Linked DNA regions of Homo sapiens: all the other regions are linked to region 1. The links come from fine-mapping of genetic effects on gene expression. A gene starts in region 1. Each other region holds a variant in brackets. All regions are shown on one strand. Distances are between the middles of the regions.

What was found.
Region 2: its variant is fine-mapped to the expression of PIGG in blood mononuclear cells (TOPMed, PIP above 0.99).
Region 3: its variant is fine-mapped to the expression of PIGG in adrenal gland (GTEx, PIP 0.91).

What each region holds. Positions count from the first base shown.
Region 1 is chr4:497,418-501,529 of GRCh38, forward strand. It overlaps PIGG (phosphatidylinositol glycan anchor biosynthesis class G (EMM blood group)), which reads left to right and starts at 1,793. Exons shown (of 13, transcript NM_001127178.3): 1 at 1,793-2,072; 2 at 2,979-3,184. The coding sequence starts at 1,919. It overlaps ZNF721 (zinc finger protein 721), which reads right to left and starts at 1,739. Exons shown (of 3, transcript NM_133474.4): 1 at 1,639-1,739. RefSeq lists enhancers at 1,025-1,890, 1,454-1,933, 1,891-2,754.
Region 2 is chr4:529,814-533,925 of GRCh38, forward strand. It overlaps PIGG (phosphatidylinositol glycan anchor biosynthesis class G (EMM blood group)), which reads left to right. Exons shown (of 13, transcript NM_001127178.3): 11 at 623-932; 12 at 4,005-4,112. Among named protein-coding and RNA genes, the nearest start is that of PIGG, 33 kb to the left of the region's middle. The variant G/A (reference allele first, on the strand shown) is at 2,009.
Region 3 is chr4:535,824-539,935 of GRCh38, forward strand. PIGG (phosphatidylinositol glycan anchor biosynthesis class G (EMM blood group)) reads left to right here. Exons shown (of 13, transcript NM_001127178.3): 13 at 3,330-4,112. The coding sequence ends at 3,546. Among named protein-coding and RNA genes, the nearest start is that of TMEM271, 38 kb to the right of the region's middle. The variant T/C (reference allele first, on the strand shown) is at 2,198.

The sequences.
Region 1 (4,112 bases):
TATCAATGTCAATCGAGAAAAATGACAAGTCTTAATCATTTCAGGAGGCTTATTTCCCAAAGTTAAGGACGCCCATGACACAGCCTCCGGAGATCCTGACGACGTGGGTCCAAGGTGGTCGGGGCACAGCTTGGTTGTATTCATTTTAGGGAGTCACGAGATATCAATCATATGTATAATAACAGGCCGGACAGGGCGCGGTGTCTCACGCCTGTAATCCCAGCTCTTTGGGAGACAGAGGCGGGCGGATCACGAGGTCAGGAGATTGAGACCATCCTGGCTAACATGGTGAAACCCGTCACTACTAAAAAATACAAAAAAAAAAAAAAAATTTGACGGGCGTGGCGGCGGGCGCCTGTAGTCCCAGCTACACGGGAGGCTGCGGTAGGAAAATGGCGTGAACCCGGGAGGCGGAGCTTGCAGTGAGCGGAGATGGTGCCACTGCACTCCAGGCTGGGCGACAGAGCGAGACTCCGTCTCAAAAACAAACCAACAAAAAAAAAACAGGCCGGGCGCGGTGGCTCATGCCTGTAAATCCCAGCACTCTGGGAGGCCGAGGCGGGCGGATCACGAGGTCAGGAGTTCAAGAACAGCCTGACCAACATGGTGAAACCCCGTCTCAACTAAAAATACAAAAATTAGCCGTGCGTGGTGGCACGCACCTGTAATCCCAGCTACTCAGGAGGCTGAGGCAGGAGAATTGCTTGAACCCGGGAGGCAGAGGTTGCAGTGATCTGAGATCACGCCACTGCATTCCAGCCTGGGCGACAGAGTGAGATTTCATCTGAAAAGAAAAAGAAAAAAAAAAAAAAAAAAAAAAAAAGAAGGACATTGGTTCTGTCCAGAAAGGCGGGGGCAACTTGGAACAGGGAGGGGGCTTCCAGGTCACAGGTAGGTGACAGACAAATGGTTGCAGTTTCTGGGTTTCTGATAAGCCTCTCCAAAGGAGGCTATCAATATGCATTTATCTCAGTGAGCAGAGGAATGACTTTGAATAGAATGGGAGGCAGGTTTGTCCTGAGCAGTTCCGAGCTTGTCTTTTCCCTTAGTTTAGTAATTTTGGGGCCCCAAGATTTTCCTTTCAGAAAAAAGAAAATGTGGTATATATACACAATGGAGTACTATTCAGCTCTAATAAAAGAATGAAACCCTATCATTTGCCACAACACGGATAAACCTGAGGATATCATGTAAGCAAAATAAGACACAGAAAGACAAATACCTCATGATCTCACTCATGTGGCATCTTTAAAACGAAGTTAATCATTAAGATATTTACCAGTTGTCTGAGGTATTGGGTTGAATTTTCTTTTTTTTTTTTTTTTTGAGACGCAGTCTCGCTCTGTTGCCAGGCAGAAGTGCAGTGGCGCGATCTCGGCTCACTGCAACCTCCGCCTCCCAGGTTCAAGCGATTCTCCTGCCTCGGCCTCCCGAGTAGCTGGGACGACAGGCACCCGCCATCACGCCCCGCTAATTTTTTGTATTTTTAGTTGAGACGGGGTTTCACCATGTTGGCCAGGATAGTCTCGATCTCCTGACCTCGTGATCCGCCCGCCTCGGCCTCCCAAAGTACTGGGATTAAAGGCGTGAGCCACTGCACCCTGCCTTCCAAATTAAAAACTTTTTAAAACCTCGTACCTCGCCGTGGGCGGCGACCGTCGCGGACTCGCCGGGAAGACGGCCCCACGGAGCCGGGAACACCGCCCGCTGTTCGTATGTCCGAGGTGACGCCCCGCTGTGGCGGGCTGGCGGAAGTGACGCGCTGCTGTGGCGCGCCGGCGGACGTGACGCCACTGTCGCTGCGACGATAAGGCCTGGCGTTATTGCTTAGAGGCGGCTACCTGGAGCCGGAAGCGCGGCTGCAGCAGGGCGAGGCTCCAGGTGGGGTCGGTTCCGCATCCAGCCTAGCGTGTCCACGATGCGGCTGGGCTCCGGGACTTTCGCTACCTGTTGCGTAGCGATCGAGGTGCTAGGGATCGCGGTCTTCCTTCGGGGATTCTTCCCGGCTCCCGTTCGTTCCTCTGCCAGAGCGGAACACGGAGCGGAGCCCCCAGCGCCCGAACCCTCGGCTGGTACGGACCCCTCCCCGGCGTCTCCGCTCCCCTGACCCCACATCCCCTAGAAGACCTTTTTTCTGAGCCTCGCTGCTCGGATTTCTTCTCGGCGCTCCCCGGTGGTCTCTTCCATTATGGTCCCCACCTCAGAAATTTTTTTTAACCGCTCCAGCGTCTCTTTTCTGTATTCTTACAACTTTGTGGCAACCACCTCTACTGGCCCCACTTCGACCTTCCTTCCTGATCACCACAAAGTAAGCTGTGTCCATACCTGGGATCCAGCCTCTCCACTTCTACTCGTCCAGAGCTCCCGCCCCTTTCCTGAGCAGCCTTTGGGTCACTCCCCGTTATAGGCGCCCTTTTTGCCCCCTAGCACACAACAGATAAGACCCCTGCCGATCCCCTCGCGTTTTGGTCTCTTATATTCCTCCAAGATGTTTTCCCTGCCTAGGGGCTAAGGCCTCTCTGCGTTAGGCCTCTTCCTAGGCTTCACCTACCCAGCCATATACAGCAAGTAAAGGCGCCCTGGTTCTGGACCACTTGCACACATCGCCAGCCGCTGACCATGTAAACGCAGTATGTAAACGCCCAGCCATCCCGTAGCTGCAGCTCTGCGTTTTAGGTCAAGCTCCCTAAATGTCCCATTCCAGGACCCTTACGTAGGGATTCTCCTACCCCAGTACTCTTCACCATACTGAGGATAATTCACTGCTTGCTACTGTGGGTCCCTAAGATTACTCCTGTTAACCCCCGTCCTTTCCCCCCAGCACTACCTACCAAGTACAAGTCGCCTCCTTTTGGGTTGGGTTATGTAGATATCGCAGGGTATGTGCTGGAGAAGTAGGTAGAAGCTAGATTGTGAAGGTGCTTGATGCTAAGGAAAGTTTAGAGTTCAATTTCCTTTTTTTTCTTTCAAACACTTAGGAGCCAGTTCTAACTGGACCACGCTGCCACCACCTCTCTTCAGTAAAGTTGTTATTGTTCTGATAGATGCCTTGAGAGATGATTTTGTGTTTGGGTCAAAGGGTGTGAAATTTATGCCCTACACAACTTACCTTGTGGAAAAAGGAGCATCTCACAGTTTTGTGGCTGAAGCAAAGCCACCTACAGTTACTATGCCTCGAATCAAGGTAAGTTTGCCTTAATGTTTTATGAATCATGGTTTGGCTGTTTTGAAGATTTAGAGGGGGTCTCTGTAGTCTTTCGCTTGGAGTTGCAATTTTAAGAAAGTGGAAATTTTGTGCTGTCAGTTGGCTGGGGCAATAGAATGTTGAAGGAGCCTCACACGGGATGGAACTGAGACCCATCATTTGTGCCCCATGTCAAGTAGCCAAAGCTCATGCTTCATGGCAAATATAAAAGATTTAGAGCAAGATCATCCAGGCTAACCTACCCCAAGATATGCCATTCTTGGTGACCTGCTTTCTTCTTTAATCGTCACTGGGTCATTTACAATCTTAGAAGGAGCCTTTAGAGTTAATCTAGTTCAGTCTCTAGACTTTATAGATAGGAAAGCAAACTCAGATAAGTTAAATGTGACTTCTCCAAAATTATCCACCAGTATACATAATGATCAAATCAGTATGTTCCGGCCTCAACAATTACCACTGTTTCCACCATATCCTTCAGGTGTCCAGCCTACTGACAGCAGCTTTGAAGTACATAGTGCATTTCCCAAGAACCGTGGGTAAAGAAAAAAGTAAGCCTTTATTGATTGGCTCAAAACTTTTGAGCAACGACTATGTGGTGATACTTCAATGGGTATGCAATTGGGGAAAAAATAGTATCTCTGCCTTCATGTAGCTTTTAGTCTTTAGATATACAGCCACTCAACAAAGGAGCATATGAAAACATGCAGTTGTAAAGTGTGGTTAATGCATGATGAGAAAGAACAGGATGTGATGATTAGTGGGTGAGAAAGCCTGGCTGAGGAAATTGCATTTAAACTGAGACTGGAAGGATGAATAAAGGTGGGGACAGAAAGGAGCAGAGGGGTTGAAGTGTGTGAGTGTATCGCATGTGAGCGTGGCATAAAGTCTCTGACGGAGCCTTAGCTGT
Region 2 (4,112 bases), 32 kb after region 1:
CTTGATTGACACGCCCGAGTAGGAGAGCTAGTGAGCAGAGCAGCAGGGCTCGGACTGAGCAGAGCTCTGCCTTTTCTCAGAGCCCGCGGGTTGGATGACTGCACCACTGCACGCGTGTGTGCCTGTGAATGTGCAGGTGCTTATTTACCTATAACTGCATGTATGTGTACCTGTAAATGTGCAAATCCTTCTTTAAATCTGCTCAGTTGTGCAATGAACATTTATGAACTTACAGCAGTTTCTTAGAGTTGACTCTTATACTAGTGCGTTGGGTTTTTTTTAATTAACTGCAAAGCAGGCGGGCCACGAGGGCACCGCTTGGGTCGTGCCACCAGATGAGCCAAATGAGCAAGATCTCCCCGAAGCCAGCCCCAGCGGAAGAGTCTGCACGAGGACACACCTGTGGGCCTGTGGCGGCGGCTCCTCAGGGCTGCTGTGCGGAGGAGACATGCCCACTGCCATGACAGGACCTGGGGGGTAGGGAGGGTGCCGCGGCTCCTTTAGTCAGCAGTGCTGGACATTTACTGGTTCCCTGGGTAGATAGGTGTGTTTTTCATGGGAAAATGTTTTTGAATTTTTCTCACTGGTGCTAATGAATCTAACTTGTTTTGCTCTTTTTTAGGGGTATTATTGAAGCTCGTTTTGTTTATGTCTTTGTCCTTGGCATTCTGTTCACGGGCACCAAAGACTTACTTAAATCTCAAGTCATTGCTGCAGACTTCAAACTCAAGACTGTAGGTTTATGGGAGATATATAGTGGATTAGTTCTTCTGGCAGCCTTGCTCTTTAGACCACATAATCTTCCGGTCTTAGCATTTAGCCTCTTGATTCAGACTCTAATGACTAAATTCATCTGGAAGCCCCTGAGACACGATGCAGCTGAGATTACTGTGATGCATTATTGGTTTGGTCAAGCATTCTTCTATTTTCAGGTAGGTTTTCATTATTATCATGGGTAGTAGACTTCATGTTTTACATATTTATTTTAAATTTTTCTTTGAGAAAATGTTCCCATAAGTTGGAAAGTGACTGTCAGTGTGGCATGGTGAATTACGCTGAACTCTCGTGTATTTTATAAGACAAAGTACAGCCGGTTGTTTAAGACACGCGTCCCAGGTGTGGATGTGTGGGTGCTTAAGACAGCAGACTGCTGCTTTGCTGGGCCAGGCCTGGGTTTATTTATTACAAGCAGTTCAGGAAGCACAGACATCACGTTGTTCACTTGCTTCACTGATGAATGTAATAATTGTTCTCGTTCATGCCCTTTGCCCCTGGTGTCGGGGCTGTCCACACTGGGGACCATTGGTGCCCCCATGATTATTAGCTCCCTGAAGCCTGGTGGGTCGTCAGGGCTTCTGTCCGGTGTTTAAAGACCCATCCCAGACAAGCCCAAACCACCTCAGTTTGAAGAGACATAGAGGGACAGGCAGACGGGGCCTCAGAGGGATCCAGCCTCATCCAGCCTCCCGGCAACCTCAGGAGAGCAGGCCAGATGGGGCCTCAGAGGGATCCAGCCTCATCCAGCCTCCCGGCAACCTCAGGAGAGCAGGCACAGCCCTGCTGGTTCCCTTCCAGTGCCGACTCCCAGGCTGAGTCGCTTTGCAGCAGCTGAACGTCGTGGTTGCATTTTGGTCTCTACCGTGAGGTCTGTATTTTCTTGGTGTGCACCGGTGTCTGCCTGTCCGCTGTCTCGTACCCAGGAGGCATGTGCAGTTCTTTGTGTCCCTACAGGGCCTCTCTTCCATCCTCTTCTCCTTTCCTGGTGCTCCCAGCCTTTCCCATGGAACAGCCCACAGTTGCAGGATTTTCTGTCTTTATGTCTGTCCCCCTGATCCTGAAGCCCAAAGGTGGTAGGCGTGAAGTTACAGAAGTCTGTGTCTTCAGGTACAATGAGTAGGTGGCCAATGGCCAGCTTCTTAGCCCCGTCCTGGTGCTTCCCCGACCCTTCTGATCCGCTCAGGCCCCTGTCCTCCTCGTACACAGCTGCAGCTCTCCCTGCCATGTCCAC[G/A]CAAGGCACAAGGGTGTCCCCAGCAGAACTGCAGGCCTGGATGCTGGTATCCAGCACGTTCAAGCCAGGTGGCCTCCGGCAGGCTCTTGCCACACCTTCGTTTCCTTATCTGTAAACCAGGGATAGTGGTCTCCCGGCCTCCCCAGGACCCAGCCCTCCCTGGTCTCCCCACCTCCCCGTGGCCCCTGTTTTGAGGCTGAGTCCGCTGCCCCTCAGTGTTAGATCTCCTCTGAGAGGAACCTGTGGCTTTGCTGCCCATCCCTACTTCCTGCCCTCGACTGGGCAGTTCCTTAACAGATCAGGGATCAGGAACATGACTGCCCTTGCTCATCTGCTGGCCCTCCACATTTGCCCAGTCCCTGGGTCTCTCTGCCTCCGTTTCCTCCCTGTTTGATGAGGATAATCACGAAGCACATCAGGACTGTTGGGTTAGATGAAGTCATGCAGGTAAAGCTGCTGTGCAGCTGCAGACATGTCAGCATGGCTGGCAGTCTCTGTGCTTGGCTGAGCCTGCTCAGAGCCACAGTGACCTCCTAGGTGTCCTCCTCCCCTGCTCCCATCGTGGCATCTGGGACTCTGTCCCCCTGCCACCCTCCAGGGTCTCCTACTGCTTCTGCCTGTTTGCTCTCTCCTCAGTCTCCCTGCAGAAGAGCTTCCAAGTGGAGGAGACACATGACTGGGGTGGCACCGTCCAAGAGAGGCAGTAGCTGCGAGTCCAGTGGGTCTCAGGGCAAGCCAAGTCAAAGGGCTGGGGCCTAAGACAACAGGGATAGGAGTCAATGCACATCTGTGAGATAATGGGGAAGCAGCATCAACATGACTTGGGGACCCCCTGGGCCCACAGCTCTCTGCATGGAAAGGGAGGAAGGAGCCAAGCTGGTGAGCACCCAGCCAGTGTTTTGTGGACATGAACAGTTCTGGTTCTGGAGAGGGATCTTCGTTGAGCTTGATAGAGACATGTGCTGTCGGACTGTAGATGTCATGAGTTTCTGAGGAAAGGTCAGCATGACAGGCAAGTGACAGACATCAGAGTCAGTAAAGATGGAGCGTGGGGAGGCGGGGCCTGGGAGCAGAGAGGAGGGGCCTAGGAATGGAGAGGTGGGGCCTAGGAGTGGAAGGGTGTGGTCTTGGAGTGGAGAGGCGGGGCCTGGGAGCAGAGAGGAGGGGCCTAGGAATGGAGAGGTAGGGCCTAGGAGTGGAAAGGTGTGGTCTTGGAGTGGAGAGGCGGGGCCTGCGCAGAGAGGCAGGGTCTCTCAGAAGACCCCTTTTTGGGATCCAGAATCACTAGGAGCAGGGTAAGCTGTGTGGCATCAGCGCTTGCATCCTGCAGGGAGTTACCTACCAGGGCTGGGCCGGGACTGGCCAGAACCTTGACAGATGAAGTTTGACCAGACCAAGTGAGTCCTCATGGTCTGATACGTAAGCCAGATGTGAGTTACCAATTTGCACCAGGGGCTGTGCTCCCCCAGTGGCTGGCCTGCCCTCCACCATATAACCCACTGGCAGCACCTCACCGTAGATGGGACCTGGCTGGGTGCCCGTTCTAGTCTTCAGCCCAGCTCCCCGCTTGGCTGGGCCCAGCAGCTGGCCTCTCAGGGCCCTATGCGCCCCTCGGATGGGGGTCCTTGAGGGGAGCTTCATGTGCTTGTCTTAAGTCGATGGGTCTGGACAAGGGTCTTAGATGTGGCACAGTCAGCCAGCCGGTCTGTGTGTGCGTCCCTCTTCAGAGGGGGCCCCAGCTTCTGCACGGTCCGCTCACGTGCCCTTCCGCAGCCTGGGCACTGCAGGCAGGGGGAGGGGGTGCCACCTAGGCAAGGCCAGCTCGGCAGTCTGAAGGAACGGCTGGGCAGCCACCTCTGACCACACGTGTGTCCGTGCCGGCGTGGTTATCTGGGCTGCCTACACAGTTCACGCTAACATCGTGGCTCACGCTAACATCGTGGCTGTTGATGCCACGTGTTGTGAGGCCTTTGTCAGCTCTTCTCCTGTATTCCAGGGCAACTCCAACAACATTGCCACCGTGGACATCTCCGCAGGCTTCGTGGGCTTAGACACCTACGTGGAAATCCCAGCCGTGCTCCTGACAGCGTTTGGGACGTACGCA
Region 3 (4,112 bases), 38 kb after region 1:
AGGTCCTCTCCCCGCCTCACTCCCCTCCCCAGACCAGCTCCTGAGACCCAGGCCACAGGGACCCTTGGCCTTGCCTCCAGACCCAGATGCCCAGCCCCCTGTCGACATTCCGCAGAGGTGTCCTCGGGCTGACAGGACTGAGGAGCCCTTTACAGGACATGCGGGCAGGGCCCACGCACCCAGGCACGCACACCCGTGCCTGCCTTTGAGCTTTTCCCACCCTGAAAGGAGCCCCTCGCCGCTCACGTCCTGTGTTGAGGCTCTCACAGCATGAGTGCTTCGGAGCCAGAGGAACCGTCCACCATGGTGGAAGTGTTCGTGCCCCGCAGACTCGGCGGGCCCGGGCTGGACCCCTCAGTCGCTCACAGGTTTCCGTAAGGGGTCGGGGGAGCATTGGCCTTGCTTCAGCAGTGATAGGCGCGTGCCTTCCCACAGCGGACATGGAGCCTTTCCAAGGGGAGAATCGCTCCCTGGCCAGACTGCAAGCTTCCCGGGGACAGGAATGCCTGAGATCCACCTGCCTTTTCTTCAGGTGCCTGTGGACGCTTGACACGCCCACTTTGGGGCAGTCTGTGGACAGACCCCCGTAATTTACAGTCACCGCTGAGCTTGTCATCACAGCAGAAAGCTGAGGCTCTGCGGGCGGAAGCCACCAACAGACCAGCTTGGGAGACACCCACTGTGGCGGCGCTGTGTGGAGACGTCCTTCCAGACTTCGATTCTGCATAAAAACAAACATCTGCCACGAGACCCCTGCTCGGCGTCCGCCTGTCTCAGCAGCTGCCCTGGGACGTCTTTCTCTGACTTGGTTTTGAGGCCAGCCGCGTGCTCACACTGGCCTTACAGAAACAGGAGACGCCGTCCTCGGCCGTCTGGGGTGGGCTGTCAGCACGTCGTGTGGTCAGGTGTCAGGACAAGCGGGCGTGAGCGCGTGGAGGTGCATCTGCCTCTGCCCTGGAGAACGGATGTGCTACAGCTGTGCGCGGCGTGATCAAGCACCTGTTGGGTGGACGGCACACCTCCCAGTGGCCAGCTGGAGACGGAGGGCTGGAAGTACTTGCCCGGCTCCTCTCTCTGTAGGTTTGGTCTTCGGCCTTGCAGCTGCCCTGGTGCTTGCAGATTGCGGTTTGATGGACCAGGCACTTTTCATCTCTTACACAGCCAGGCACGTTTGTGTTTGGGAGGGAAAAAGACAAATATTAAGTGAGGTGAAAGCATTTTGATCAACTGGAGAGTATCATGATATTTTTCCTAGTCAAGAAGCATTTCTCCTTCATTTTATAGGGTTTTCTTCTTCCCTTTTAAAAGTTTAAAGCATCAAGTTTTACTCATGGTTTCTATTTTGTTTCAGTAGAGTAGGAAAACTATAACCAGGTCTAAATTGTAGACAGAGAAAATATGTTTCCAAAAGGTCAAAAACGTGGCCTTGAGTGGTTGGCGACCCTCTGTTCCAGGGGCTGGCACCCCGGGCTGCCTGCTCCCCTGCAGCGCAAATGGCTCTTTGCTAAAGTGGTGGGAACAGCAAGCCGCCATCTTCTAGGTGGGTAACGCTATAAAGTGTTAAACTGAAGTCAAGGTGGTGCCATGTCTAAGCCACAGCTTCCCCATGCGCTGTCTGGGTAGGATGGGGCCACGGCCCACTTAGCCACGAATCTTCCTGCCCAGTATGTTCACCTTTTCCTGGGTGTTGCTGTCACCAGGAGGTGTATTGAGGATACCTTGGGGTCCACCTCCCTGTGGGGTCCCCGGCCTGTGGGGCTGGATACCAAGTGGTGACCAGCGGTACGGGTTTGGGGGACCCGCCTAAGGAGCCAGGGCCTGGCAAGGAAAGCAGTGAAAGGACCAGAGGCACCGGCCACCCACCGGGAGATCCCAGGGTCTGAGTATTTTACTGGAGCACATGGCGGGCTGAGGTGAAGGAGTGTTTGGAGAAGCCAAGAGGAGGATGGGCCCCTCCAAGGCCTGAGATGGGGAGCCGGTGGGGGGCTGAGGTGAGGCTGTGGAGGGGCCAGAGACAGCCCCGTCCTTGGCCCTTCGTGGCTGTTGACACCCTTTCCTGAGCAGTGAGCACTGAAGCAGGAGCCACTTACAGGACACCCTCAAGTAATACCTGGTGGAGCTGCTGGGCTGACAGGACTGAGGAGCCCTTTACAGGACATGCATGTGGGGCCCAGACACACATACGTGCCGACAGGAC[T/C]GAGGAGCCCTTTACAGGACATGCAGCGGGACCCACACACCCACACACACGTGCTGACAGGACCGAGGGGCCCTTTACAGGACATGCAGCGGGACCCACACACCCAGACACACACACGTGCCGACAGGACTGAGGATCTGGGGGCTGCCTCCGGGCCCTTTCTAACAGAACTTGATCAGAGGTCATGGATGAGGCATGGAAAGTGCCCAAATAATGTAATTTATCATTTTTCAATAATCACAGACTCAGGGAAGTTGCTTTGAGGAAGAGATTTATGTAGTGTGTTGGTGGTTTCAAAACTAGGGGGTACATTAACATACTTCGAGGGGTGGCTCTTATTCCGAGAATTTGCTCAGCAAACCCCGCTGGGCCAGTGTCCCCAGACCAGACAGTCCTCCACACCACAGCAGGGAGAAAAGCTCAGAACTTGTATTTATGTTTATTTGTATCTCACCCTTTTGTGATTTTCTATTCATCGTTTGTATTTTATAATGCATGTGATATAGTAGCACATGCATATATAATTTTTAAATAACTGCAAAGTCTGGGGGGTGCGTTTTTCAGAGCTGTTTTACAGATGACGGTGGCAGACAGTGGCTGAGCAGTTGGGGCTGCAGCTCATGTCCCCTCGGGCACCTCCGTGCCTTCTGGAGACTCAGACCTCTGCCCACCCCAGACCAACCACATCCAGATTTCTGTAGGGGGGGCTCCAGAGTGGCACTTCCAGCACATACTGTAGGTGATTTTTACATACAGTCAAGTTTCAGAAGCATTTCTGGAGAGCTCAAGGTGTGTGTGGGGGGGGACATGGTGGCCCTCACCCATCCTTCTGTTTGCTTCATTTTTCTTCATGAATTTGTCTCTTCCTGACATGTTACATATCTGGTTTCTCCTGCCTCCTTCACTAGAACACAGCCTCCAAGGGGGCAGGTTGGGTTTTCCCGTCTCCAGCGCATCTGGAGAGGCACCTGTCCCAGCACCATAGTGACTGGATGTGTGTGCAGAAGAAGGAACGCGGTGCCCTCTACTCCAAGGGCAAGAGCTACTGGAGTCTTTTTGAAAATAAAAGTGTTGTTACATGTGTGATATGTAAGTGGCATGTGCTAATACACATTTTCTTTCTTATTAACAGTGGTTCAGCACTGAGTCATGCTTGCTTCTGCTACGCACTGATTTGTTCTATTCCAGTTTTCACGTACATCGTTTTGGTGACATCTCTGCGTTATCATTTATTTATATGGAGTGTATTTTCTCCAAAACTTCTCTACGAGGGAATGCACCTGCTCATTACAGCTGCTGTCTGTGTATTCTTCACGGCAATGGATCAAACCAGACTCACACAGTCTTAGACTAAGCTGAACACTGGAAAAATAATACATGCTTAAAGTCTGCTGTTATTCTAAAATGAAAGATATGAATTCAACAAAGTTGATGGATAACTTTCTTTGACTGCTCTACCTGAATTTAGACTAAGCAGTAAATAGTTTAATAAAAGATCACTTTAATATACAGTTTGTATCATATTTTCCCCCATTGACAATCACTCTAGAAGCTTCTGAACTTTTAATTTCCTCTGAATAAGCTATGGTGTGACCCAAATATGTGTGTTTAAATCAATGAATGAAAAGGTTCTGGACTTTGTTAGAGTCCAGGAGCTCTGTGGGAGGAGGCACCCAGATTACCTTAGGGAGCACAGAGCTCTTAGAATCCTACAAACCACTGAGGGCCCCAAGGCGCTTTGGTTTATGAGGGTTACATGTATCAGTGTTTATGGCATTTGAGATGAAAACTAAGATAAAAAAGTATTCATTTATAAGGAATCTATTGCATATTAATGAAACACTTGAAGGAAAAGTAACTATATTTTCCAAAACAAAAAAATTCAGTGAGACCCAGCACTTTGGGAGGCCAGAGT